Homo sapiens: one gene and its partners. The protein of the gene in region 4 purifies or fractionates together with the protein of the main gene of each other region. This does not show direct contact. Each region holds a gene or a part of one and is shown on either strand. Other genes may lie near its edges. The genes, in order: SLC25A51, DDR1, PTPRK and EVA1B.

Evidence for each region.
Region 1: the proteins of EVA1B (region 4) and SLC25A51 purify together in Homo sapiens (co-immunoprecipitation; 2 studies listed by BioGRID and IntAct, with this or other methods). This does not show direct contact.
Region 2: the proteins of EVA1B (region 4) and DDR1 purify together in Homo sapiens (co-immunoprecipitation; 2 studies listed by BioGRID and IntAct, with this or other methods). This does not show direct contact.
Region 3: the proteins of EVA1B (region 4) and PTPRK purify together in Homo sapiens (co-immunoprecipitation; 2 studies listed by BioGRID and IntAct, with this or other methods). This does not show direct contact.

The regions. Positions count from the first base shown.
Region 1 is NC_000009.12:37,894,123-37,901,152, forward strand, and holds part of SLC25A51 (mitochondrial nicotinamide adenine dinucleotide transporter SLC25A51), read right to left. Parts: intron 5,829-7,030; 5' UTR 5,707-5,828; intron 1-5,706. UniProt on the Homo sapiens protein: Mitochondrial membrane carrier protein that mediates the import of NAD(+) into mitochondria. Mitochondrial NAD(+) is required for glycolysis and mitochondrial respiration.
Region 2 is NC_000006.12:30,894,499-30,900,666, forward strand, and holds the end of DDR1 (epithelial discoidin domain-containing receptor 1 isoform 2 precursor), read left to right. Parts: intron 1-7; coding exon 8-173; intron 174-905; coding exon 906-1,016; intron 1,017-2,122; coding exon 2,123-2,367; intron 2,368-2,515; coding exon 2,516-2,643; intron 2,644-2,862; coding exon of another isoform or gene 2,863-2,880; coding exon 2,881-3,099; intron 3,100-3,574; coding exon 3,575-3,809; intron 3,810-4,389; coding exon 4,390-4,539; intron 4,540-4,657; coding exon 4,658-4,798; 3' UTR 4,799-5,658; downstream 5,659-6,168. UniProt on the Homo sapiens protein: Tyrosine kinase that functions as a cell surface receptor for fibrillar collagen and regulates cell attachment to the extracellular matrix, remodeling of the extracellular matrix, cell migration, differentiation, survival and cell proliferation.
Region 3 is NC_000006.12:127,978,571-127,985,600, forward strand, and holds part of PTPRK (receptor-type tyrosine-protein phosphatase kappa isoform b precursor), read right to left. Parts: intron 4,808-7,030; coding exon 4,672-4,807; intron 4,411-4,671; coding exon 4,261-4,410; intron 2,720-4,260; coding exon 2,546-2,719; intron 1-2,545. UniProt on the Homo sapiens protein: Regulation of processes involving cell contact and adhesion such as growth control, tumor invasion, and metastasis. Negative regulator of EGFR signaling pathway. Forms complexes with beta-catenin and gamma-catenin/plakoglobin.
Region 4 is NC_000001.11:36,321,530-36,327,849, reverse strand, and holds EVA1B (protein eva-1 homolog B), read left to right. Parts: upstream 1-4,204; 5' UTR 4,205-4,391; exon of another isoform or gene 4,392-4,782; 5' UTR 4,783-4,812; coding exon 4,813-4,879; exon of another isoform or gene 4,880-5,124; coding exon 5,125-5,555; 3' UTR 5,556-5,820; downstream 5,821-6,320. Other genes in the region: SH3D21 (SH3 domain-containing protein 21), read right to left, coding at 1-130, 6,072-6,126.

The DNA of each region.
Region 1 (7,030 bases), on a different chromosome or scaffold from region 4:
TACAATTTATTCTACCTCCTATTTATGGTTGCTGTTTTTTTTTATGGTTTTGTATTATTAAGGTTTGGAAAACTCTGTGGACAATTCAGCTTGCCAAGTGTGTGAGTGGGTATACAAAAGATATACATTTTTAATTCCAAGACCTTCCAGAGAGTGTCTAGAGGAAAGGTCTAATTAAACCTGCCCCCACTCACCTTTTTTTTTAACTTTTTTTTTTTTTTTGAGGCAGAGTCTTGCTTTGTTGCCCAGGCTGGAATGCAGTGGTGCGATCTCGGCTCACTGCAACCTCCACCTCCTGGGTTCAACTGATTCTCCTGCCTCAGCCTCCCGAGTAGCTGGGATTACAGGTGCCCGCCACCATGCCTGGCTAATTTTTCTATTTTTGTAGAGATGGGTTATCAACTTGTTGGCCAGGCTGGTCTTGAACTCCTGGGCTCAAGTGATCTGTCCGCCTTGGCCTCCCAAAGTGCAGGGATTACAGGTATGAGCCACTGGCCTGGCCTTTTACAAAAAATTTTAAGTTCTGAGGTACGTGTGCAGGTTTGTTATGTAAACTTGTGCCATGGGGTTTGTTGTACAGATTATTTCGCCACCCAGGTATTAAGCCTAGTACCCATTAGTTATCTTTCCTGATCCTCTCCCTCCTCCCACCCTCCACCCTCCTATGGGCCCCAGTGTGTGTTGTTCCTCTCTATGTGTCCATGAGTTCACATCATTTAGCTTCCACTTGTAAGTGAGAACATGTGGTATTTGGTTTTCTGTTCCTGAGTTAGTATGCTAAGAATAATGGCTTCCAGCTCCATCCATGTTCCAGCAAAGGGCACAATCTTGCTCTTTTTATGCCTGCATAGTATTCCATGGTGTATGTGTACCACGTCTTCTTTATCCCGTGTACTACTGATGGGCATTTAGGTTGATTCCATGTCTTTGCTACTGTGAATAGTGCTGCAGTGAACATGGCTGTGCATGTGTCCTTATAGTAGAACTATTCCTTTGGGTATTGTTTTTTTCTATTTCGCCTTTAAACAATGCAGCAATGGGCAACCTTGTACTTATACCATGTGAATTGTTTTGCCATTAAAAACTTTTTTTTTTTTGAGACAAGGTCTCATTCTGTTGCCCAGGCTACGATGCAGTGGCACAGTCATGGTTTACTGTAACCTCGAACTCCTAGGTTCAAATGACCCTCCTGCCTCAGCCTCCTGAGTAGCTGGAACTACAGGTATCCACCACCACATTCGGCTTTTTTTTTTTTTTTGTAGAGAAGGGGTCTTGTTATGTTAGCCAGGCTGGTCTCCAACCCCTAGCCTCAAGCGATCCTAATGCCTCAGCTTCCCAAAGTGCTGGGATTGTAAGGAGTGAGCCACCTTGCCTGCCATTTAAAATTTTTGAATATGATTCCCCATCTTTCATTTCTATTGACCACTTCTTTACTATACATTTTCATATATGTTGCCCATTTTTCTGCTGGCACTTTGGTTGTCTTACTGATTTGTAAAGTATCTTTTAGATATGAAGCAAATGAATCTATTTTAGTCAAATTGTGGCAAATAATTTTTCCATGTCTATATCATTTTTATACACTGAAGTTCTTAATTTGAATATTAAATATATCTCAACTTCTAGATTTCATGTTCTCCTAAGGTCTTCATTACTCCAAAATTATTAACAAGTAATCCAGGCTTCCTTCCACAACTTTTTTTTTTTTTTTGAGAGAGTCTCACTCTATCATCTAGGATAGAGCGCAGAGGCATGATCTCGGCTCACTGCAACCTCTGCCTTCCTGGTTCAAGTGATTCTCCTGCCTCAGCCTCCCAAGTAGCTGGGATGATAGGTGTGTGCTGCCATGCCCTGCTAATTTTTATATTTTTAGTAAAGACAAGGTTTTGCCACATTGGCCAGGCTGGTCTCAAACTCCTGGCCTCAAGTGACCTGCCTGCCTCGGCTTCCCAAAGTGCTCGGATTACAGGCCCTTCCATAATTTTTATGGTGAATTATCACGTATACTGTAATATCTCTGGAATATCAGTTTAAGAAGTGAGGCAAAGATAACAGACTGCCAACATCACTGATGACTGAACTTTGTTTCCATCAGTTGCAGCATAATCTAAATACCCACGGGCGTTTGCGTTTATTTCTGCACTCCATTCTTTTCCACAAAGAGCCTGGTATTTCTTCTCTAGTACTAACCTGTTTTAACCTATTGCAGCATCAAAATATAGTTCATCATCTAGTAGGGCTTCCCCCTCCAAAGATAATTATTACAGTTTTTCTAGCCCTCTCACTTTTCTCAGGTAAACTTCGGTGTACTCTTCCCCAAAATCCTGTTGGTGTTTTATGGTGGAAGATGTATCCACAGAATGAGGCATATATATTTAAAATAGGCTGGGTGGCCGGGCACAGTGGCTCACGCCGGTAGTCCCAGTATTTTGGGAGGCCGAGGTGGGTGGATCACTTGAAGTCAGGAGTTCGAGACCAGTCTGGCCAACATGGCGAAACTCCATCTCCACTAAAAATACAAAAATTAGCCAGGCGTGGTGGTGTGCACCTGTTGTCCCACCTACTCTGAAGGCTGAGGCAGGAGAATCACTTGAACCCAGGAGGCGGAGGTTGCAGTGAGCCGAGATTGCACCACTGCACTCCAGCCTGGGTGACAAGTGCGAAGCTCTGTCTCAATAAATAAATATTTAAGGTTCAGAACGGTATTAACTTTGAATTTTTAGTGGTATTTAGATGGAAAGAGTGAAAATTAAAGAGCATATGTATGTCCGGTACCTATGTCAGGGGAGATAAGACGTGCAAATTAATTAGACTATAGGGAGATAAGTGCAATCATAGAAGGTATCAAGGCCCCGTACAGCAGGAGGTCATTAACTAGCTGTCCAGAGGGAATGACAGACAGGACATGACAAGTCTATCTTAATTTTAAATACTGATCATCTTTTCAAAATTGAATCTTAACTTTACAAGAACTTGGTATCTTCCTATTTACTTATAACTTTTTGCAAACCTTAAAGCATTAAAATTTTCTTCACATAGATATTATTTCTTACATCTATGTATTTCACCTTTTTGGTTACTATTATATTTTAAATTTTTAAATTTTTTTTCTTTTTGAGATGGGGTTTCACTATGTTGCCCAGCCTGGTCTTCAACTTCTGGGCTCAAGTGATCCTCCTGCCTCAGCCTCCCAAAGTGCTGAGATTACAGACATGAGCCACTTTGCCCTGCCTGATTATTATTATTCATAGGCTATTTACTTCCATCAGTTTTCTAACTAGTTTTCGTTTGCATAAGAAAACAACTAACAATTCTTGGGTATTAAGGTTAGAACCAGCTAACTTACTGAATTCTTACTATGTCTCAGTTTTTTGGTGAACGTTTTAGTTTCCACCATGTAAAAGATCACTTGCAAAAAATTTTGCCTTCTCTTTTATAATATGTGTAATTCTTTCTTCTTATTGAACTGATAAATACTTCCTGAACAAAATTAAATTATAATAAAGGATTATAATAAATTATAATTATAATCCCTATATATAATTACATATATATATAATTATAGTTCTTATATTTTTCTTGACACCTGTGGGAACTCTCCTAGGGATTATCATTAAGTTGGCTTTCGGTTTTAAACAGGAAGTTCTTGTCATCTGAGTGTTCATAATCCAGGTCCTAGCAGTTTTCAAGTTTACACAGGGAAACAAATCATCAAGACACAGAAACGTTCACTGATCAGCTGAGTCATATATGATTTATTCCACTCAAGTATCCCTCCTCCCTATTTATCATCTACCCCTGCCCATCTGTAGGACTCTACTGTAAACATGAAGTGCAGGAGGCCTTCCTTCTGCTATCACATAATTTCATCTCACAAATCATGCCAAAAACCCCAAGACTTCAATCTATATTCATTCTAAGAATTAGTGGAGCTGCAATTATAACTTAAGCTCCTGCCCCCAACTATTAACTATGAAATTGTGCTTCCCATTAAAAATGGATTCCAGGCCAGGAGCAGTAGTTTACACCTGTAATCCCAGCACTCTGGGAGGCCGAAGCAGGCAGATCACTTGAGGTCAGAAGTTCAAGACCAACCTGGCCAACATGGCAAAACCCTATCTGTACTAAAAATACAAAAATTAGCCGGGGGTGGCCGGGTGCGGTGGCTCACGCCTGTAATCCCAGCACTTTGGGAGGCTGAGACGGGTGGATCACCTGAGGTCAGGAGTTCAAGACCAGCCTGACCAACATGGAGAAATCCTGTCTCTACTAAAAATACAAAATTAGCCAGGCGTGGTGGCGCATGCCTGTAATCCTAGCTATTCGGGAGGCTGAGGCAGGAGAATTGCTTGAACCTCGGAGGCGGAGGTTGCAGTGAGTTGAGATTATGCCATTGCACTCCAGCCTGGGCAACAAGAGTGAAACTCCATCTCAAAAAAAAAAAAAATTAGCCGGGCATGGTGGCATGCACCTGTCATCTCAGCTACTTGGGAGGCTGAGGCAGGAGAATTGCCGGAACCCAGGAGGCAAGGTTGCAGTGAGCCAAGATTGTACCACTGCACTGCAGCCTGGGCGACACAGCAAGACTCTGTCTCAAAAATAAATAAATAAATAAAATAAAAATGAATTTCATTTTTCTAGTCAACTGATAAGTCAAACTGAGAGAATTTTCAAACATGGGAAGGAAATATACATTTATTATTGTTGTACTGAAGTTCAATCACCTCCACACCTTCCCACCGCCAATAACTCAAGAGTCTATCTTAAACTTTGGTCAAATGCTTTTAGAAAGCTCCTGAGATGATCATACAAACACTGGAGACAGCCAGTGTAATATTTAAGAGTACAGCCTCTGGAACCTACTAATTACCTACTTAAATCCTAGCTCCACCACACATGTACTGTGTGACCTTTGACAAGTCACTCTATAGCTTATTCTCTTTATAAAACGTGGCTATTAACTACCTCATAGACTAGCTCAATTAACTGAGCTAACAACATGTAAAGTGCCCAGGACAGCAGTCTAGTGTACAGTAGGAACTCAACAAGGGCAAGCTATTTTATTATTCTTTTCTATCTTTTCTGACTTATTCATTTGGTGTATTATGTTAGCATATTTCTTGGTGATTACTCACTCTTGCAATATGTGGATAAATGCTACTTGGCCGTGGTGAAATATTCTTTCATCATACTGCTAACTTCCATTTACTAATATTTTAAAATTTCATATTACTGTTCATAACAGATCATGTTGTCATTTTTTTTTTCTTCTTTTACAAGACAGGGTCTCACTCTGTCACCCAGGCTGGAGTGCAGTGGTACAATCATGGCTCACTGCAGCCTCAAGCTCCTAGACTTAAGCAATTCTCCCAGCTGGGACCACACACGTGCGCCACCATGCCTGGCTAATTTTTCACTTTTTTGTAGAGACAGGGTCACTCTGTGTTGCCCAGGCTGGTCTGAAGCTCCTTGGCTCAAGCAATCCTCCTGCCTCAGCCTCCCAAAGTGTTGGGATTATGGGCATAAGCCTTGGCACTCAGATAAGTTTTCAGTTTTAATACTATCTTCACATCAAGTGCCAGTGTCAATGTTCCACTGGCTTTGTAAAAAGAATATGTGATTCCCCGCCCCCCCACCCCCATCATACTGTAGAACAATTTAAATCTTATCAAAATGATGTGTTCCTTGAAGTTTAATTGCATTCACCTGTGACATCTGAGCCTGGAGTTTGGCAGGATGATAGCTTTGTGATAATGTTCCCAATTTCTTCCATTGTTATTGTTCTGTTAGGTTCTCTCTTCTTGAGTCAATTTTGATAACTGGATTTCCTTAAAAAAAAAAAAATTCTGGTTTAATTTATATAGCCTTTTTTTTTTTTTTTTTTTTTTTTTTTTTTGTAGAGACAGGGTCTCACTATGTTGTCAACGGTGGTCTCAAACTCCTGGGCTCAAGTGTTCCTCCCACCCTGGCCTCCCAAAGTGTTGGGATGACAGGCATGAGCCACTGCTCCCAGCCTATTTTTATTTTTAAAGACAGGATCTTGGCCAGGTGTGGTGGCTCACGCCTGTAATCCCATCACTTTGGGAGGCCAAGGCAGGCGAATCATGAATGAGGTCAGGAAATCGAGACCATCCTGGCTAACACGGTGAAACCCCATCTCTACGAAAAATCCAAAATTTAGCCAGGCATCGTGGCACGCACCTGTAGTCCCAGCTACCTGGGAGGCTGAGGCAGGAGAATTGCTTGAACCCGGGAGGCAGAGGTTGCAGTAAACCAAGATCACAGCACTGCACTCCAGCCTGGGCGACACAGCAAGACTCTATCCAGAAAAAAAAAAAAAAATGACAGGGTCTTGTTCTGTCACCCAGACTGGAGTACGGTGGTACGATCATGGCTCACTGCAGCCTGGACCCCTGGGGCCTCAGTCTCCTGAGTAGCTAGGACCACAGGCGCATGCCACCATGCTTGGCTAACTTTTAAAAAACATTTTTTTAGCAGAGAGGGGGCCTTGCTATGTTGCCCAGGCTGGTCTTGAACTCCTGCCTTGGCCTCCCAAAGTGCTGGGATTTACAAGCCACTGCACCCATCCAACACTTGCTGTTTTAAAAAATTACTTCTAACCTGTGTACTTATGTTCCCTTTTTTCTTGAGCAGGGTTATCAGTTTATCTAATTTATAACCTTACCACTCCTAGCAAAGCAGCAGCTTGTGAATTACCAATCTTACTATTTCTCAGTTTTGTTTTGTTTTTTTGAGACAGAGTTTTGCTCTGTCACCTGGGCTGAATGCAGTGGCTACCTCGCAGTTCACTGCACTTACTGCAGCCTTGACCTCCTGGGCTCAAGCAATCCTTCCACCTCAGCCATCTGAGTACCTGGGACCACAGGCCCGCACCACCAAGCCCAGCTAATTTTTGTATGTTTTGTAGAGACAGGGTTTCTCTACGTTGCCCAGGCTGGTCTCAAACTCCTTGGGCTCACATCATCTGCCAGCCTTGGCCTCCCAAAGGGGACTACAGGCATCAGCCACC
Region 2 (6,168 bases), on a different chromosome or scaffold from region 4:
TGACAAGGCTGAACGGAGGGTGTTGGAAGAGGAGCTGACGGTTCACCTCTCTGTCCCTGGGGACACTATCCTCATCAACAACCGCCCAGGTCCTAGAGAGCCACCCCCGTACCAGGAGCCCCGGCCTCGTGGGAATCCGCCCCACTCCGCTCCCTGTGTCCCCAATGGCTCTGGTAAGACCTGCCTTGTTCCAGTCGCACCTCTGTCCTCTCTGCTGTTTTCTTATTGTATCCCTTTCCCATTCTCTTTTTTTCCTGTCTTCCCCAGTTTCCACTTGTTTTCTTCTTTCTGTGCCCCTGGTTACTGTCTATATCACTCTTTGTCCCTACCATGTAGTCTCTCTCAAGAGTTCCCCATGTATTACCCATAGTCCCCCGTGGTGCTATCTTGTCTGTGTCCCACAGACATCTCTCTATCTTTGTTGTACCCTCTCATTGTGTCTCCCTGGCCCCTTTGCTTTGTATTAGACTCACCATGTTTGTTCCTTCATCTATCCTCCATCACCCATCCTTCCATCCATAGTCATACATCCTTGCATCCATCCATCAATCTTCCATCATCTGTCTTTCTATCTATATTCATAAATCTATTCATCCATCCATCCACCCACCCATATCCATCATCCATCTATCCATCTATATTCACACATCCATCTTTCCATCTGTTATCCATCCATCCAACAAAACATCTGTTTACCATCCATCCATCTATTCATACGTCCCATCTGTCCATGCATTCATTATCCAGCCAGCCGTCCGTCACTCTGCAGATCCTTGTTTTATCCTGTCTGTCTCTTAATGCAATCATCCCATCAGCCCTGGTCTTGCCCTATTCAAGGTCTCCCTGTCTGTCTAGCCTTGAGTCTCATCCCTTCCCCGTGTTTCCCCTCCTCCTTCTCCCGACAGCGTTGCTGCTCTCCAATCCAGCCTACCGCCTCCTTCTGGCCACTTACGCCCGTCCCCCTCGAGGCCCGGGCCCCCCCACACCCGCCTGGGCCAAACCCACCAACACCCAGGGTAAGCCCCTCTGCCCCTGGGCTCCGCCAGGCTCCCCATACCTCTACTGGGGCAGGGAAAAGCCCTCACACCTTGCACTTCCTCCTCTCCCCACTGTGGCCTATTCTGCTCTCCTGAGCTCCCAAGGAGGAAGCTCTTGTGCCCTTAGCTCATCTCTGCTGCTGCTTGCTCTTTTTTAAGGTCCCCCCCTTGAGCTGAGGAGTAGAAAGCTTACTGGTCCCCAGCTCTTCTCCCTCCTCCTCTTCCACGCCATCTCTTCAGCTCTCCAGAGCTAGACAGGAGGTTGCTGTGGTGGCCCCAGACTATAGTAACTCCTCCTTTATTCTCCACTCTCTCTAGAGCTGCGAGGAGGAGGGCTCTCACCCCGGGCGCTTGCCCTTTCCCTCACATGTGTCCTCTCTCTGCAGTCCCAGAGGTGAAGGCTCATGCCCCAACCCTTTCCATCTGCCCCTCTTCTCCTCAGTGTTGCCTTCTCATTGTGGCCCCTTCCCCAGGGCTAAGAGGGGACAGCTCTGCTTCCTCTCCTGTCTGTAGACAACTTGTGTTGGGGCTGTGAGCAGCTGTTACCCTCCCTCCTCTCTGTGTGCCTCTGTCTCTGCTTGTTGTTGAGCTTGGTGTGTTGGGTTGAAAGGGTTGGGAGGGCTTGGCCCCAGGGGGAGCCAGGCTGAAAGCCACGGGAGAGCAGCTAAGTGAAGGGGAGGGAGCTGTGGTGAACGGGACAAGGGTTTGGAAGGTGGAGGGTGCCTGGATGCTGGGACCATCCTGAGGCGGGAGAATTCCTGGGGAGGAATTCTTCTTCCAGCCAAGATTTATCTCACAGTCTCTTGAGAGACCCTAGGGAGGCCCTAAAAGAGTAAGACTTTATGACAGTTTTGCTCAACCATATTCATTGCCTTGAAAAGCTCTGGAATAGCTAACTCTCGTCCCATGCCAGTGTCTTCCTGGTTTGAGGTTGGCGCATGGAATACTGGGAAGATACAGCATAGACCCAGTCTCTCACTCAACCGGGAGACACAGGGCCCTCCGGGAGGCTGAGGTGTGGGGAACTATAGCTCTTGGGCTGTTCCTGATGCCTCGTCCTGTCTTCTTTCCCCTCACCCCTGCAGCCTACAGTGGGGACTATATGGAGCCTGAGAAGCCAGGCGCCCCGCTTCTGCCCCCACCTCCCCAGAACAGCGTCCCCCATTATGCCGAGGCTGACATTGTTACCCTGCAGGGCGTCACCGGGGGCAACACCTATGCTGTGCCTGCACTGCCCCCAGGGGCAGTCGGGGATGGGCCCCCCAGAGTGGATTTCCCTCGATCTCGACTCCGCTTCAAGGAGAAGCTTGGCGAGGGCCAGTTTGGGGAGGTAAGGAGGGTGCCTACCCAGTGTCTGGCCCTATTGTGTGCTCTGATGCCATGCCTGCGCATCCCCCTAGCCAGGAACCTTAGTCATTTGTAACCGTGTTAATCCGTTTGACCCTGTGACCGCCTAGCAAACGAACTTCTTTCTCCAGGTGCACCTGTGTGAGGTCGACAGCCCTCAAGATCTGGTTAGTCTTGATTTCCCCCTTAATGTGCGTAAGGGACACCCTTTGCTGGTAGCTGTCAAGATCTTACGGCCAGATGCCACCAAGAATGCCAGGTGAGGACCAGGGATGGCATCTGGAAGAAGGGAGGGGAGGCCGTGAAGAGTGGGGAGCCATCTAGAGAGAACAATGGCAGAGCCCAACAGAGGGGTGGCATCTCTGGGAGGGGATTTACATGTACGCTGGGGGTGGGGACGCCTGGTCTGCCTGAGGTGGGGCAGGGGGGTGGGGGCGCGGGGGAAGGTGCAGGCCGCCCACTCGGCATTCCTCTTCAGCTTCTCCTTGTTCTCCAGGAATGATTTCCTGAAAGAGGTGAAGATCATGTCGAGGCTCAAGGACCCAAACATCATTCGGCTGCTGGGCGTGTGTGTGCAGGACGACCCCCTCTGCATGATTACTGACTACATGGAGAACGGCGACCTCAACCAGTTCCTCAGTGCCCACCAGCTGGAGGACAAGGCAGCCGAGGGGGCCCCTGGGGACGGGCAGGCTGCGCAGGGGCCCACCATCAGGTACCTGCTTACCCAGGCTGGGCCTTGCTCAGAATTCCCCCAGGGGATCTCCTCCTCTCCCCTCGCTTCAGCCTGGAGGAAAAGAGGGGAGCGTGGGGGTGGGAAGGGAGAGAGGTTCCAGGAGGGCCTGGGATAAGGAATGTGTGACAAGTTAACCCAGGAACATGGACAGAAAGGCTGGAGGTGACTATGCAAGAGTGGTGAAGGGACTTGGGCCCTGCCATGACGTCCCTTCTGCTTTCTCTCACCCTCACTCCCCTCTGAGTCCAGATTGGGGAGCACAATAAAAGAAGAGCCCCCTAGTGTTGGCCAGGCCTGGGAGATTGAGAGGGAAGTGACCCTTGGCCTCACGTGGGCATTCCACCTCCACATGGGGAGCCAGAGTGACCGGGCCCGGGGAGTGGGCTCTCTCTCCTCTCCTGGATGGGAATCTGCGAAGCTGCCCCCAGTGACCTTCTGTCGGTTCCCTTCTCAGCTACCCAATGCTGCTGCATGTGGCAGCCCAGATCGCCTCCGGCATGCGCTATCTGGCCACACTCAACTTTGTACATCGGGACCTGGCCACGCGGAACTGCCTAGTTGGGGAAAATTTCACCATCAAAATCGCAGACTTTGGCATGAGCCGGAACCTCTATGCTGGGGACTATTACCGTGTGCAGGGCCGGGCAGTGCTGCCCATCCGCTGGATGGCCTGGGAGTGCATCCTCATGGTGAGCAGCCCGAGGACAGCCAGGTTGGAGCAGGGCAGGTGGGAGAACACTGGCCGCCACTCACAGCCCTGGTCTCCATCAGTCACACACTTTCTCTGGGTTGCATTTTACAGAATCTCATCTATAATATGAGGTTCTCCTAGCCCAAGGGACTGGGGAAAGCAGGAGCTGCAGTGTGATGGGCAAGAATCCAGGAGCCAAGAGTGGGTACTGGGGATGGAGACAGGGTGGCAGAGAGCTCAAGAGATGAGGTTGGGCGAGGAAGCTGGAGATAGAAGGGGTTGGGTAGGGAGACCGAAGGTCAGGACCAGAAAGTGGGGGTGGATGGAGAGGAAGGAGGAGCAGAAGGAAGAGGTGGGCCAGGGCCCTGGAGAGAGGACCAGAGCATGGAGAGGAAAGGCAGAGCCCAAGGGAGAGGAGTTGGAAAAGGTGGCCAGCGGAGGAGAGTGGAGAGCCTGGCGTCAGGAGGGATCAGGCCTGAGTGGAGCCCAGAGTGGATCTGGGGCTTCCAATAGGAAGGGAGGAGGGTCTACGTTGCCTGATGTCCCTGTCTGTTTTTGCTGCCTTCTCTGCATCCCAGGGGAAGTTCACGACTGCGAGTGACGTGTGGGCCTTTGGTGTGACCCTGTGGGAGGTGCTGATGCTCTGTAGGGCCCAGCCCTTTGGGCAGCTCACCGACGAGCAGGTCATCGAGAACGCGGGGGAGTTCTTCCGGGACCAGGGCCGGCAGGTCAGAGTGGAGGAGAGGGAAGATGGGTCCGAGGCGGGGGACAGAAGGGGCAGAGTTGTCATCTTGGAGACTAAAGAATATTTGTTCCCTGACTCTCATCCACACTGCCACAATGCAGGTGTACCTGTCCCGGCCGCCTGCCTGCCCGCAGGGCCTATATGAGCTGATGCTTCGGTGCTGGAGCCGGGAGTCTGAGCAGCGACCACCCTTTTCCCAGCTGCATCGGTTCCTGGCAGAGGATGCACTCAACACGGTGTGAATCACACATCCAGCTGCCCCTCCCTCAGGGAGCGATCCAGGGGAAGCCAGTGACACTAAAACAAGAGGACACAATGGCACCTCTGCCCTTCCCCTCCCGACAGCCCATCACCTCTAATAGAGGCAGTGAGACTGCAGGTGGGCTGGGCCCACCCAGGGAGCTGATGCCCCTTCTCCCCTTCCTGGACACACTCTCATGTCCCCTTCCTGTTCTTCCTTCCTAGAAGCCCCTGTCGCCCACCCAGCTGGTCCTGTGGATGGGATCCTCTCCACCCTCCTCTAGCCATCCCTTGGGGAAGGGTGGGGAGAAATATAGGATAGACACTGGACATGGCCCATTGGAGCACCTGGGCCCCACTGGACAACACTGATTCCTGGAGAGGTGGCTGCGCCCCCAGCTTCTCTCTCCCTGTCACACACTGGACCCCACTGGCTGAGAATCTGGGGGTGAGGAGGACAAGAAGGAGAGGAAAATGTTTCCTTGTGCCTGCTCCTGTACTTGTCCTCAGCTTGGGCTTCTTCCTCCTCCATCACCTGAAACACTGGACCTGGGGGTAGCCCCGCCCCAGCCCTCAGTCACCCCCACTTCCCACTTGCAGTCTTGTAGCTAGAACTTCTCTAAGCCTATACGTTTCTGTGGAGTAAATATTGGGATTGGGGGGAAAGAGGGAGCAACGGCCCATAGCCTTGGGGTTGGACATCTCTAGTGTAGCTGCCACATTGATTTTTCTATAATCACTTGGGGTTTGTACATTTTTGGGGGGAGAGACACAGATTTTTACACTAATATATGGACCTAGCTTGAGGCAATTTTAATCCCCTGCACTAGGCAGGTAATAATAAAGGTTGAGTTTTCCACAACTGTGTGAGTGGGTTCCTTGGGAATTTGGTAACTCTGCCTCCTGCACCTCCCTCTGAACCCACTTCCCAACCCACTTCCCATCTTCCTTTTTTCCTGCCTCCTCATTCCATTTCCCATCACCTGTTTTGCCCAGCATTGTGTTCTGTTTCTGGATAATCCAGGCCTTTGCCTGTGGGACCTCAGGAGATGCATGAATGTCTGAGTGCATGAACCTTCTCAACTCAGAGGGGTGCTCTGGTGGAGGCCTGGAAGGAATGCAGTCAGGCCAGGGGTGCTGAACCTTTTTTGTGCCATAAACGCCTTTGGCAGTCTGTAGAGGTCTACTGAGTCCTCCTCAGAATTAGGTTTTAAAACCTATAAAATGGACCAGGCATAGTGGCTCACCCCTGTAATCCCAGCACTTTGGGAGGCTGAGGTGGGTAGATCACTTGAGGCCAGGAGTTCGAGACCAACCTGGCCAACATAGCAAAACCCCATCTCTACTAAAGATACAAAAATTAGCAGGGTGT
Region 3 (7,030 bases), on a different chromosome or scaffold from region 4:
GCAGTGTGAGAATGAACTAATACAATGAGAAAAGTTAGAAGAAAGGAAGCTCTTCTTCCAATCAAATGTCTGCTCCATGCAAAGGTAAGTCAAAGCAGACTGACGGCTATCTACTCATTTTTTGAGCCACAGGGGAGGGGATATGCATGAGGAGGAGCTGATAAGAGAGGAGAAGACTGAAGACTTCCTATTCTTTTTCCCTCTAAATGCAGGAACATATGTAAGGCTTTGAAATTACAGAATTCTTGGCCCTAGCTCCTAATCCCTCATAGACCTGGCAAAAGGGTACTAATGATGGGGATAAAGGGTAGGGAGAAAGAAGTGAACAATAAACCCTGTTCTTGTAAATCAAACCAGCTTTACTTCTCCAACGGTTCATTTGCACTACTAAATCCCCAGAACAGCTTTAACTATGAAATGTCTTTTTTTTGAATCACAGGGGATTAAGCAGACAGTAAGAGCAGGTGGATTACAAGCTTCAACTTTCATACAGAAAAAAAGACAAGCTTGGACAAGAAAGCAAGACCCCATCTTTACAAAAAATAATAAAAAAAAAATTAGCTGGGCATGATGGCATACACCTTAGTTCTAGCTACTTGGTAGGCTGAGGTGGGAGGACCACTTGAGCCCAGGAGATTGAGGCTGCAGTCATCTGTGATCATGCACGACACTCCAGCCTGTGCTACAGAGTGAGAGCTTGTCTCAAAAAGAAAAAGAAAAAAGAAAAGAAAAGGAGACAATCTGGACATTGAGAAAAATTTGACAAAGATGCCAATGGCAAAAAATTCAAAGGCATCAATGCTTTTCTAAATATTATTATTTTCTCCTTTTCTTGTTCACACATCCTTTTTTTATTCCATATTTAGATGCAGAAATGAAAAAGTATTGTATGCCATCTCTCTATTTAGTATATTTGCCTTTCCAGACACCTAATATAAAAAGAAAAGGTATAATTAGGATTTAATGTGATTTCAGTGGATGTGATTAATGGCCAGGCAAGACTCCGATCACAGCAAGGATGAGAGCTTTTCACAGGCAAGAGTGACCACAGCAAGGACGAGAGCCTGCCTTTAGACTATTCCGCTTTGCAGCACCAAAAAGAGTAAAGTAACTGGTGAAGACTACTCGTAGAAACAGAATGTGGGCTTAACAGGAACAATAACTTAGAAAGCCTGTTATAGTCAGAAAGAAATGAACCGTGGCTTCTAATTTCTCCTTGATATGGTTTCATAGGAGAAAGGGCAAAAGCTAGAAATGAAGGCAGTAAACTGTTTAAAAAGATTATAAACCATGATAGCTTTCTTGCTTCTTTCCAACATAATCAAAGTAAAGTGGCCAAAGTCATAATTTAAAACTTTCTTTCCTTGGGAGGCCAAGGTGGGCGGATCATGAGGTCAGGAGTTTGAGACCAGCCTGGCCAATGTGGTGAAATCTCATCTCTACTAAAAATACAAAAAAGGCCCGGCACGGTGGCTTACGCCTGTAATCCCAGTACTTTGGGGGGCCGAGGCAGGTGGATCACCTGAGGTCAGGAGTTCAATACCAATCTGACCAACATGGTGAAACCCCATCTCTACTAAATACAAAAAATTAGCCGTGCATGGTGGTGCATGCCTGTAGTCCCAGCTACTTGGGAGGCAAAGGCAGGAGAATCGCTTGAACCTGGGAAGCAGAGGTTGCAGTGAGCCGAGATTGTGCCATTGCACTCCAGCCTGGGCAACAAGAGCGAAACTCTGTCTCAAAAACAAAAACAACAACAAACAAACAAAATAAGCGGGGTGTGGTAGAGCACGCTCCTGTATTCCAAGTTACTCAAGAGTCTGAGGCAGGAGAATTGCTTGAACCTGGGAGGCGGAGGTTGCAGTGAGCTGAGATCATGCCACTGCACTCCAGCCTGGGCGACAGAGTGAGACTCTGTCTAAAAAAAAAAAAACCAAAAACTAAAACAGAAAACTTTCTTTCCATATTGTTCTGTCTATGGGCTATATAACACCCTGCAATTTAAGATTTTAGAATGGGGCAAGATTGTTCTTTCATTATGATGGATGTGTTAACATAATACCATCCATCCCCTCTCTAGTTACTTATAATAGTCCTTATTGATTAATGGCCAACAAATTAATTGTAAATTATTGAAACATTAAATGTCAGAAATAAAAATTTCCCAAATTAACATGATTTTTGTAGGATTTGGCATTCTGTGATTTAAAAAATTCATTTCTAATTATATTCAAAATAGATAAGGCATGATTTTCTTTTCTGAAAATAATTAAGATGAAATTTATAACTTGCAATATTTACTACATGAATATAATAATTGACAATCAAGCTCCAAATCTACAATAAAGCTATAAAAATGACAGTTCTTAAGAATCTCTATAGGGAAAACCTAAAATCATTTTCCAAAAAAATGTGTTTCAATAAAAGTTTCCACTTTTCCTTTTTAGGTTATTTTAATTTCCTCGAAAAGAAAACTAGCCAGTGTTCAGTTGCATTATGTAGCTTTCCACAACACTCTACACTAACAAAGAGGGCAGTCTCTTACGTCCATAAGAGCAGCATTGATGTAGTTACTGCTCTCCCCATCAATTGTAATTAAAAAAGGCAGACATCTGTCAGGTGGCAGCATGTCCATGAAACGGTTCTTGTCATGGTTCCTTGGCAGGCACGCTATACTGCAGTCTTCAGCTTGTAGTCGAGGGGTGACTGAATTCAGAGTCTAAAAAGAAAAGAGAACCCAGGTTAAAAGACAGTGTGACCCATTTAACAGTATAACACAGATCCATCAGGAATTTAGAAGGCCAAGTAGAAAGTGAAGGATTTGTGCGAGGCAATGGCATTTGCTACTATGACAGGCTGATAGACCTTGTAGTTAAAGCTAATGAAGCCTGAGAAGTGACAAAGAAACAAGACACACATTGTTCAGGGCTCCTCTTCTTAAAAGGAAAAGGTACGCTAAACAACACTGCTACCTGCAAAATGCATTGCCTTAACCAAAGAAAATGCAATCGGGCAGTCCATTATGATAATGACCCTTCATCACACTGGGAAACGGTATCATTTGTAGTAACATCTGGGCTTGCCATATTTGAAGATAAGCTATGGCATGTTGGAAAGAGCACTGGATCAACAATCAAAGAATTTGGTCTCTGCCCTTGATTTTATTTTCACCCACCTTCAGGGGTGTTTTAAGGGCAGTGAAAACATTTAGGGCTATTTTGAAATAACATGTACTACAAACTTCATTTATTATTATTATTACTATTATTATTTTTGAGACAGGGTCTTACTCTGTTGCCCAGGTTGGAGTGCAGTGGCAATATCTTGGCTCACCACAGCCTTCCAGGGTTAAGCAAACTTCCAGGGTCAAGCAATCCTCCCATCTCAACCTCCTGAGTAGCTGGGACTACAGGCATGCACCACCACACCCGGCTATTTTTTATATTTTTTGTAGAGATGAGGTTTTGCCATGTTGGCCAGGCTGGTCTTGAACTGCTGACCTCAAGATCTGCCTGCCTTGGCATCCCAAAGTGCTAGGATTATAGGTGTGAGCTGCCACTGAACCCAGACTCAGTTATAATTAATGTGCTTGATCTCATCACATTGTGAGTGACCCAGGTCAAAATCTGTATGACTGCATGAAAAAAAGGCTATAAATACACACTAAATACACACAAATCACCACTCATTTTGACTTGTTATTATTTCTTTTTTTTTTCTGAGACGGAGTCTCGCTCTGTTGCCCATGCTGGAGTGCAGTGGTGCAATCTCGGCTCACTGCAAGCTCCGCCTGCCAGGTTCACGCCATTCTCCTGCCTCAGCCTCCCGAGTAGCTGGGACTACAGGCACCCGCCACCATGCCTGGCTAATTTTTTTTGTCTTTTTAGTAGAGACGGGGTTTCACCGTGTTAGCCAGGATGGTCTCGATCTCCTGACCTCGTGATCCACCCGCCTCGGCCTCCCAAAGTGCTGGGATTGCAGGCATGAGCCACTGCGCCTGGCCTAATTTTTGACTTTTATGATACCTTTCCCCTTTGCTCTTCCCTAAGTCTGAACTTATTTGTCATTTTGGATATAGTAGATATAAATTCATCAATAGAAAAGTGACTATATAATATGTATAATGAAAGAGATACGTATTGTATTTAAAACAGGATCAAAGGTTATAAATTTGACTTGAAAGACCTTCCTTGAAAGGATTCCTAGCGCCCAGAACAAATTGTAGTAAGTCACAAAAGAGGTTTTAGAAATAGTTAATACCTGAAATTCATCCTTGAGATGTGAAGAGTTAGTCTGGGAGTCTATTCTAATCATATCAAAATATGCAGCTTTAAATTCACAGACAGGTATGGCAGTTTCTCCACATAAGCAGGCTTCTAAAATGGCATCATGAATAAAAATGTACTGTTCCTACCAAAAGAATGAAAAAGAAAATTTTGTACTAGTTTTAGTATCACTTTTCTGTCATCAAAGTTAGGAAATACAGAAAATTTTCTCTATATGGAAATATGAATTAAAACACCAATATTTTTCTATATGACTCAGCTAATATTGATTACACATGAAAAACATCTCTTTCGGTTGAGTAGAGTATATATGAGAGACATCTACTCTTTGTTTGCAAAAAAAATAAAAAATAAAAAAAAGTCCACTACAGGTAAATCTACATACCTCTGTCTGGACCATATTAATACGCCGAGATCTTAAGGCTTTGACACAATTGTAAATATCAACAACACCCTCTCTTTCAGCCATGTCTAGCATGATGTCAATCACAATGTAGCAGCCAGTTCGTCCAGCACCAGCACTGAAAAACAATTAAATTTAATGAATTGTAAGAAGCATGTTAGTCTTCATAACCTTAAATAAGGACTTTTTCCACTGTCAGATAGGTAGAATCAAATTGATTTAACAAACTGCAAGGCACAGCACTTGTCCCTGCTGTGTAAAAGCTTATTAATGTACAAATAGCTTCATGCAGAGTATCTGCTTTGGTATAAACTAAAGATTGGAACAAGAGTTCTAAATTATTTTCAAATTGAAAATAACACTGTTTAAGTTCCACACCTCTCTCACAATTTTCATTTTATGTAAATTTAATACACATAATTTCAAGTTCATAGAATTGATCAAGTGGCAGATTCACGCTTCAAAATTTAACTCAAGATTGAATATTTTTAGATTCATCTAGTTGTGTGTCCTCTGGCAACAATGTGAGAATGTTGGCTCACTCACTGTCTTCACCTCTTGTAAATACCAAGGCAAAAGAAAATTAATTCCCAAAACTTTAAACGGGAAATCTGAGGAGCCACGCTTCACAGGAAATGCAAATGGTGGGGGTGGGCAAGAGAATGACGGTTATCAAAGGGGAGGAGAGTAACAGTGTAAAGACTATTTGAATCATGATCTGAAGAGAAATGAAAATGAATTATTAGGTGTAGAATATGATTCCCAGCAAATCAAAAGGCTAGCCGCTATCTTACTGTATTTAATTCTAAAGTTAATTTTTAAAAATACTTTTAAAAAATTATATTTTAGTCTTTAATTGGCAAATAATAATGTATATATTCTTGGGTACATAGTGATATTTTAATACACATAATGTAGAGTGATCAGAAAAGGGTGATTGGCATATGCGTCCTCTCAAACATGTATCATTTATGTTGTGAACATTCAGTATCTTCCTTCTAGCTCTCTCAAACTAAACATTATCATTTACCAGACTCATCCTACAGTGGTACAGAACACTAAAATGTATTCCTCTATCTCACCATATTTTGTGTCCTTTAATTGTAATATACTGTGATTATTTTGCAGCTGGGGAATGTTTCTCCAATTTTATATATAGAAGTCAATGGGGAAAACAAAATAAGGATTTTTTGCGGGGAGTGGGGAATTCACTTTGTAGTCCAGAGATGCTTCAGTGTAGGTGGAAAATGACACTTCTGTTTCAAGAGAGTATCTGAGAATCTTGGAGCATTTCTGAAGCAAGCAATTCATAAGAAAGTAAACCTCTCTGATAAATCAAGAAATTCTTAAGTTGAAAACCTATTTATCTCATTTTCTAAGTGCTTAGATAGGCTAGTAACATTATTTCCTTGTTATTCAGATTTGGTCACTTCTCTTAAACTCACTGTTCTTTTAGAAATTTAAGCAAAAGATATTGTGGCTATCTCTATTTATCTTTGTCCCCTACCATCTTCTCAATCACTGTTCCCAGAGTTGGAGACAGGAATGTAATTTAAGAGTACATCAGATTTCATGAGGAGGATTGAAAGGAAGTTTTTTTTGTTTTCAGGGTACATAGTATCTGATCCTATGGGACGTTTTACCTTTACTTCATTCTCTGCTTTTTTTCCCCTCTTTTATACATGGTTATTTAAATCCTGAATAGGTTGGATTTTCAGAAAGCAAAAAATGCTTAGGTACAACCTATTATGTAGCTTGGAGGGAAGAGCGTATGAGAATGGTGTGCAGCATCATTTAGGAAACGCTTTTCAGATTCAGTACTTATTTTTCTGGTCACACCTCAAAATGAGGCCATGTAATTTGCTTTTAGTATCTCTAAATGCTTGTTTTAAGAGAAGTTTCTAATCAGAAGAAAGTCTGGATATAATGCTCGTGTTTTTTGGCATATATTTGCTGAATCTCACTGATGCAGTTTTCAAGGTCCTCTAATGTGAATTCTTTAAAAAAAATTTTTAAATAGCTGTTTTGCAGCACAAATCCTTGCAATTTAGGCCATTTAGTAACTCTGTATGTCTGAAATTTAGTTTTAAAGCTGGAATTCTATTGGGAATTTTCTAGATTGGCAAGAAATGTCTATTTCAACCTAGCATTCTATACAATATGGGATTTGCAAAAGTGATAAAAACAAAAAACACAGATGTTGCCATTAAAAGGCAGAGTTTCTATACTTTAAATTGTGGATAACACTACACGCATTAGGATGAATGTATGTATTTCTTAAGTTCCTGTTTTATAGACTACTTACAGCCAACTTTTATTTTATTGCTGTTTTACTTTATCT
Region 4 (6,320 bases):
ATGGGGACAGCCACATTGGCCAAAGGTTTCAGGGACCTTCCCCAGGGCCTCCAGGAGCAGTGCTTCTCAAAACCCTCCAGGGCAAGGCTGCCGCTTCTCCCACCTGGCCTGGCTTGGCCACGGCAAGCCCCTGGAGAAGACAGCACTCTGGTTAATGTGCGTCCCTCTCTCTGAAGCAACCAGCAACCATCATCTCAACCCTCATCCTGCTCCACTAGGGCTGAGTCATACCTGACCCACTCCAAACACATATGTCACATACCAACCCAGACACAAACATACTTTTGCCTGCAGGCAGAGATACAGAGAGCTGCGTAGCACAGAGGTGCATGGAAACAGCTTGACAGAAACAGATCCAAAATTTTAGACTGCACATAGAGGAGCACACATGTGGACTCTCACAGACACAGGTCTGTGCCACATGAACTGAGGCACTGAGGCACACAACACACGTAGTCATACAAGCACACTGTAGCACACACCGATATTCCCGTGGATGGCAGGCATTAAACATGCTCATGCACTCCCAGCAATGCTGCACATAAATAAGCTACCTGTGCAAACAGTCACTGACATACACCCCTTGAAGAAACAGGAATACAACCCACAGAAACTCAATATTGCTGATGGTCTTCAAATCTCGGCCAAGGCAGTGGGCAAATTCTGGCCTCATCTTCACCTCTCAGCCCAATCACACATGGCTGATCACATCCCTGTTCTGGCCTGGTTCTCCTTGCTGACTTCACCTCCAGGAGACCCCTCAATGGGCTCGAGCTTCAGACCCTTCTCTCTCTGCCCCCTTACCCCAGATGTTCGGTCTCATCCACTTCTGGGGTGGTAAATCCATCTTATGTGGTAAGGACTCTCAAATATCATTTTCAGCCAGATTCCTGGGGGTTCTACTTGCATTGCCAACACCTGCACCTGGATATCTAATGGACATTTCAAGTCTAACCTATCTACAGTGAAACTGACTACCCCCAAACCTGCTTCCCCACATGGGCTTTCCTCAGGTGCCCCAGCCCAGTATGAAAGTGTTCTAAACTCCTCTCTCCCTCACATTCAAGTCCAGTGCAGGAACTCCCTTCAGAACACCACCTGAGTCTGAGCCCTCTCGCCTCTCCACCGGCCCCGCCCTCACTGGCTTGGACAGCTGCCAGCCTACTCACCACCCTCCCTGCTCCCCTTCTTGCCCACAGTGGCCCACCCTACACTGAGCCACCACAGGGATCTTTCCAAAATGTGTCACAGGGCCATGACACTCCCCTGCTCAACGCTCCAGGAGCTCCCCACCACACTTACATTAAAAACCAAGCTCCTGGCCGGGCACGGTGGCTCACACCTGTAATTCCAGCACTTTGGAGGCCAAGGTGGGCAGATCACCTGAGGTCAGAAGTTCGAGACCAGCCTGACCAACATGGAGAAACCCCATCTCTACTAAAAATACAAAATTAGCAGGGTGTGGTTGTGCATGCCTGTAATCCCAGCTACTCGGGAGGCTGAGGCAGGAGAATCACTCGAATCCGGGAGACAGAGGTTGCAGTGAGCAGAGATCGCGCCTTTGTACTCCAGCCTGGGCAACAAGAGTGAAACTCCGTCTCAAAAAAAAAAAAAAGAAAGAAAGAAAGAAAAAGCTCATCAACAAGGCCATCGAGTCCCTGCACGGGCAGCCCCTGCCACTCTCCCCTGCACCCACACACCATCTGCGTGGCTTTCTTCCCTTGGAGGGAGGTATCCCAAGCATGTTCTTACTCCTGCCCAGACACTCTCCCCAGATCCTGGCACAGCTGCCTCCTCCTTAGGATTCAGGTCTCACTGTGGATGTCCCTGTGAGAGCCACTCCCAGGTGTTGTCCATCGCATTACCCTATCCTGTCATGCCCCCCAGCACTTAGAAGCATCTGAGATTATCTTCTATTGTTTCTCCAATTTAGTGTCAGCTCCATGAGGGCAAGGATTTGTGTCTGTTCTGTTTATTGTTAAATCCCCATTAAAACTATTCCTCAGGGCTGGGCGCGGTGGCTCACGCCCGTAATCCCTGCACTTTGGGAGGTCAAGGCAGGTGGATCACGAGGTCAGCAGATCGAGACCATCCTGGCTAACATGGTGAAACCCGGTCTCTACTAAAAATACAAAAAATTAGCCAGGCGTGGTGGCAGGCGCCTGTAGTCCCAGCTACTTGGGAAGCTGAGGCAGGAGAATGGCATGAACCTGGGAGGCAGAGCTTGCAGTGAGCCGAGATCGCGCCACTGCACTCCAGCCTGGGTGACAGAGCGAGACTCCGTCTCAAAAACAAAAACAAACAACAAAAAAAAAACTGTCCCTCAGTATTCTCAGGGGATTGGCTCCATGACCTCCCTCCCATAGACACCAAAATCCAAGGATCCTCAAGTCCTTGATGTAAAATAAATTGGTTCAGTATTTGCATTTAACCTATACACATCCTCCTGTATACTTTAAATCATCTCTTGATTACTTATAATATCTAATATAATGTAACCGCTATGAAAATACACTATTGGCCGGCATGATGGCTCACACTTGTAATCCCAGCACTTTGGGAGGCTGAGGTGGGTGGATCACTTGAGCCCAGGAGTTCAAGACCAGCCTGGGCAACATGGCAAAACCCCATCTCTACAAAAATTAGCCAGGCATGGTGGTGCACGCCTGTGGTCCCTCCCAGCTACTTGGGAGAATGAGATGGGAGGCTCACTTGAGCCCAGGAGGTAAAGGTTGTGAATGAGCTGAGATAGCACCTCTGTACTCCAGCCTGGGTGACAGAGTGAGACCCTGTCTCAAAGAAAAAAAATTAAATATATCTATTGTTTAGGAAATAATGATAAGAAAAAAAGTCTGTACATGTTCAGCACAGATGCAATTTTGGTTTTGAATATTTTTGATGCAAAGTTGGTTAAACCCACAGATGCTGTGGACTAGACTAGGAAGTGCTAGGCATACACAGTATTTGTTGACTAGTGGCTGCACAGATTTATATACAGACATACCCGCCCCCACAACAATACTCAAATACATCACATTAATAGACAAATATACAGATGTGGGCAAAAATACCTGCCCGCACATTCACAGAACACACTAAACAGTCACAAAGACACCCAGGAGTCCCTTTTCCATCCCCATAGGAGTCAGTCCTAGTCCTCCCCCATCTAGATCTGCCCTCTACTTGAACCCAGTCTCGGGACTGGGGGAGTAGGGGTCTGCAGCCCGGACAGGGAGAGGGTCGCTGGCCCACAGGCCTCAGGCAGCGCCTTCAGCTATGTCTGCAATTTCCTCTCCCCCTTTCCTCCTCCTCTCTAAGGCTCCCGCCAAGGCGGCCTCCCCCTCATTCTAGCTCCAGCAAGGGAGGGGAGGTCCATGATGGGGGGGCCCCGTGGAGACAGGGCAGAAGGAAGCCCCCCGCCACACACACTGATCACACACCACATTGCATGCACAAGCCCAGGTGGGAAATGCGTGTGTGAGCACAGGCAGGTTTAGCCTTGGGGTGGGGGACGGGATGGGGTGGGATCTGCCACAAGCCGCCACAAGCTGCTTGGTGCACAAGAGCGCAGGAGCTCGCAGGCACAGAGGCCCCACGCTGGGGTCTGCGAGACTGCTGGCCGGGCCCTGGCTCAAAGCTGGAGTCCAACAATCATTAACCCTGCGTGACTAGACCAGAGCTCGGCCAGGGGACACATTCAAGCCTGGGCCCTGGAAGGAGGGGTGGACAGTCCCCTCCCTTCCAGTCCAGCATGGGTCTGGGGAAGAGAAGCAGCTTTGCCTGGAAGGGGCCTCCTAGGAGGGGGAGCGGTGGTTTCTAGCTCAGGCTTTAGGATCAGAGAGCAGCAGATTCAAATCCTGACGGTTTTGGTAAAGTCAATTCAATCTCTCCAAGACTCCGTTTATTTGATCTGCGAAGTGGGGATAATGGTATCACGTCGCAGGGTTGTCAGGCGGAGTAAGTGAAAGAACCTGTCCAAGGTTTAGCCCTTGGCCCGCACGCAGGCAGAGCTCCAGCCTCTCTGTTGTTGCTGTTAGTGGCCTGGGGGCGGGTCCCTGCCGCGGCCTCCCCGGCGGTTTCCTGTGGGGGACGGACGGCCCGCGGGCCGGGCTCTCCCTCCTCCCGGCTGCCCGCTCCTCTCCCCTTCCTCTCCCAGCCCTTTTCCTCCCCGCCTCCCCGCCCGCCCCGCCCCGCCCCGTCCCTCCTCTTTCCTCGGAGGAAACTTTCCGCCGGCTGGTCCCTCGGTCCGTGTCCCGCCCGTGCTGCCGCGGCCTGGGAGCCCAGCGGGGCCGGAGGGGCGGCGGGACCCGAGCGGGCGGGGGCGGCCGGACCCAGTGTATGCGGCCGCGGGACGCGCTGGGGCCGGGCAGCCGGGAAGCGGGGCGCTGACGGTGAGTGGGCCTGGCCCCGGGCCGGTGGGTCCCCGCGGGGCGGCCGGGCGAGGAGAGAGGCAGCTTCCCTTCCCGGAGCCCGCCTGGGGCGTGGAGGCTCAGCGTCCCTATCCTCCATCCCGCCCCGGGACGGCGGAACCGGGCCTCAGCTGGGGACCTCACCAGGGGGCGGGGCCTCCCGCGGTCCCCGGCGCTGCTCCCAGGACTGGAGGGGCGTCCGCGCCCGGGAGAGGGGTTCCCCCCGACAGGGCCCCGGGCCGCCACGAAGTTAGGGAAGCGCTCTCTCCAGGGTGGAACCTGGGCCCGCGGCTCCCGGGAGAGGAGCTGCCCGCGGAAGGGGTCGGGGTGGGCTCCAGGCTGGGAGAAGGATCTGACTTTGCTGACCTCGCAGGCTGGTAGGGGAGCTGCCCCCCAGAGCAGCATGGATGCCCCGCGAAGGGACATGGAGTTGCTCAGCAACAGCCTGGCTGCCTACGCGCACATCCGCGGTGAGGGCGGGCGCCGGAAGACTGGGGGCCTGAACCCTTCCCTGACCACCATCCCCTTCCCTCCCCAGCGCCTTGTCCGTCCCCTCCGCCCCGCTCCCCGCCCTCTTGCCCGCTGGCGGTTCCCTAATGCCCTTCGAGTAGGGGTTACAGGCCTCGCCCCCACACCTAGAACCTGGGGTCTTTCGGAAGTGGGACAACCCCCACCCGTCCGGGCCTCTCCGTGACCCCCGCCCTGTGCCCCGCAGCCAACCCCGAGAGCTTCGGCCTCTACTTCGTGCTGGGCGTCTGCTTCGGCCTGCTGCTCACCCTCTGCCTGCTCGTCATCAGCATCTCGTGGGCGCCCCGCCCGCGGCCCCGGGGCCCGGCTCAGCGCCGGGACCCCCGCAGCAGCACCCTGGAGCCCGAGGACGACGACGAGGACGAGGAGGACACGGTGACTCGGCTGGGCCCCGACGACACGCTGCCGGGCCCCGAGCTGTCCGCAGAGCCGGACGGGCCCCTCAACGTCAACGTCTTCACGTCGGCGGAGGAGCTGGAGCGGGCGCAGCGGCTGGAGGAGCGCGAACGGATCCTGCGGGAGATCTGGCGCACCGGGCAGCCGGACCTGCTGGGCACAGGCACGCTGGGGCCCAGCCCCACGGCCACGGGCACCCTGGGCCGCATGCACTATTACTGATGGGCCCCGGCTCCCGCTGCAAGGCGCTCGGGGTACCGGACCTGCACATGAGCTCAGAGCTACCCCACACCTTCGGACTGCCTCGGCCCCCACAGCTCCCAGGTGCTACTGGGCGTGGACCGCCACCCCCTGAGAGGCTCCCTTCCCCAGTCCTGCCAGAAGACCCCGGGGGCGGGGAGGGGGCAGCATGCAGGGTCCCCACTCCCTCTCTGGGGTCGATGAAGAGGTGAAGTGACCAAATGAAAGAAAGCTGCATTCTCAGTGACTCAGTCTCTCCCTCTGTTACTCCTGCCCCCAGCGACCCCCAGGCTCCTGCCACGCAGGGGCCCCAGGACTGAGGCCCAGCTTGACTCCCTTACCCTAGCTGCACCACCCCCACCCACCAACCCGACGATACAGCACACCTGCCCGCATTCACTTCACAGCCAGCAGAAAAGCAGAAGCCCACAGGCCTGCACCCAGCCTCACACACAGAGCAAGCGCGCGCGCATTCCTTATTCAAAACGCATTCCTTACCGGCAAACGCCTGGACACACGTCGCCCTGTCCCCACAGTGCCCTGGGTTCATACACTGCAATGACACACACACCAGGCCTCAGGACCCTGACCTCGAGGCTAAGGTGCTGCTAGCCCCGGTGTAAGCATGCGTGCTTGGGCTGGACGGTGGACTTCACGTCTGCGCCGAGGTGCGTTCAAGCGAGAGGGCAGGAGTCCCTCTGAGCGGACAGGGAGGCCAGCTGGGAGGGGTCCGAGCTGGCGAGAAGG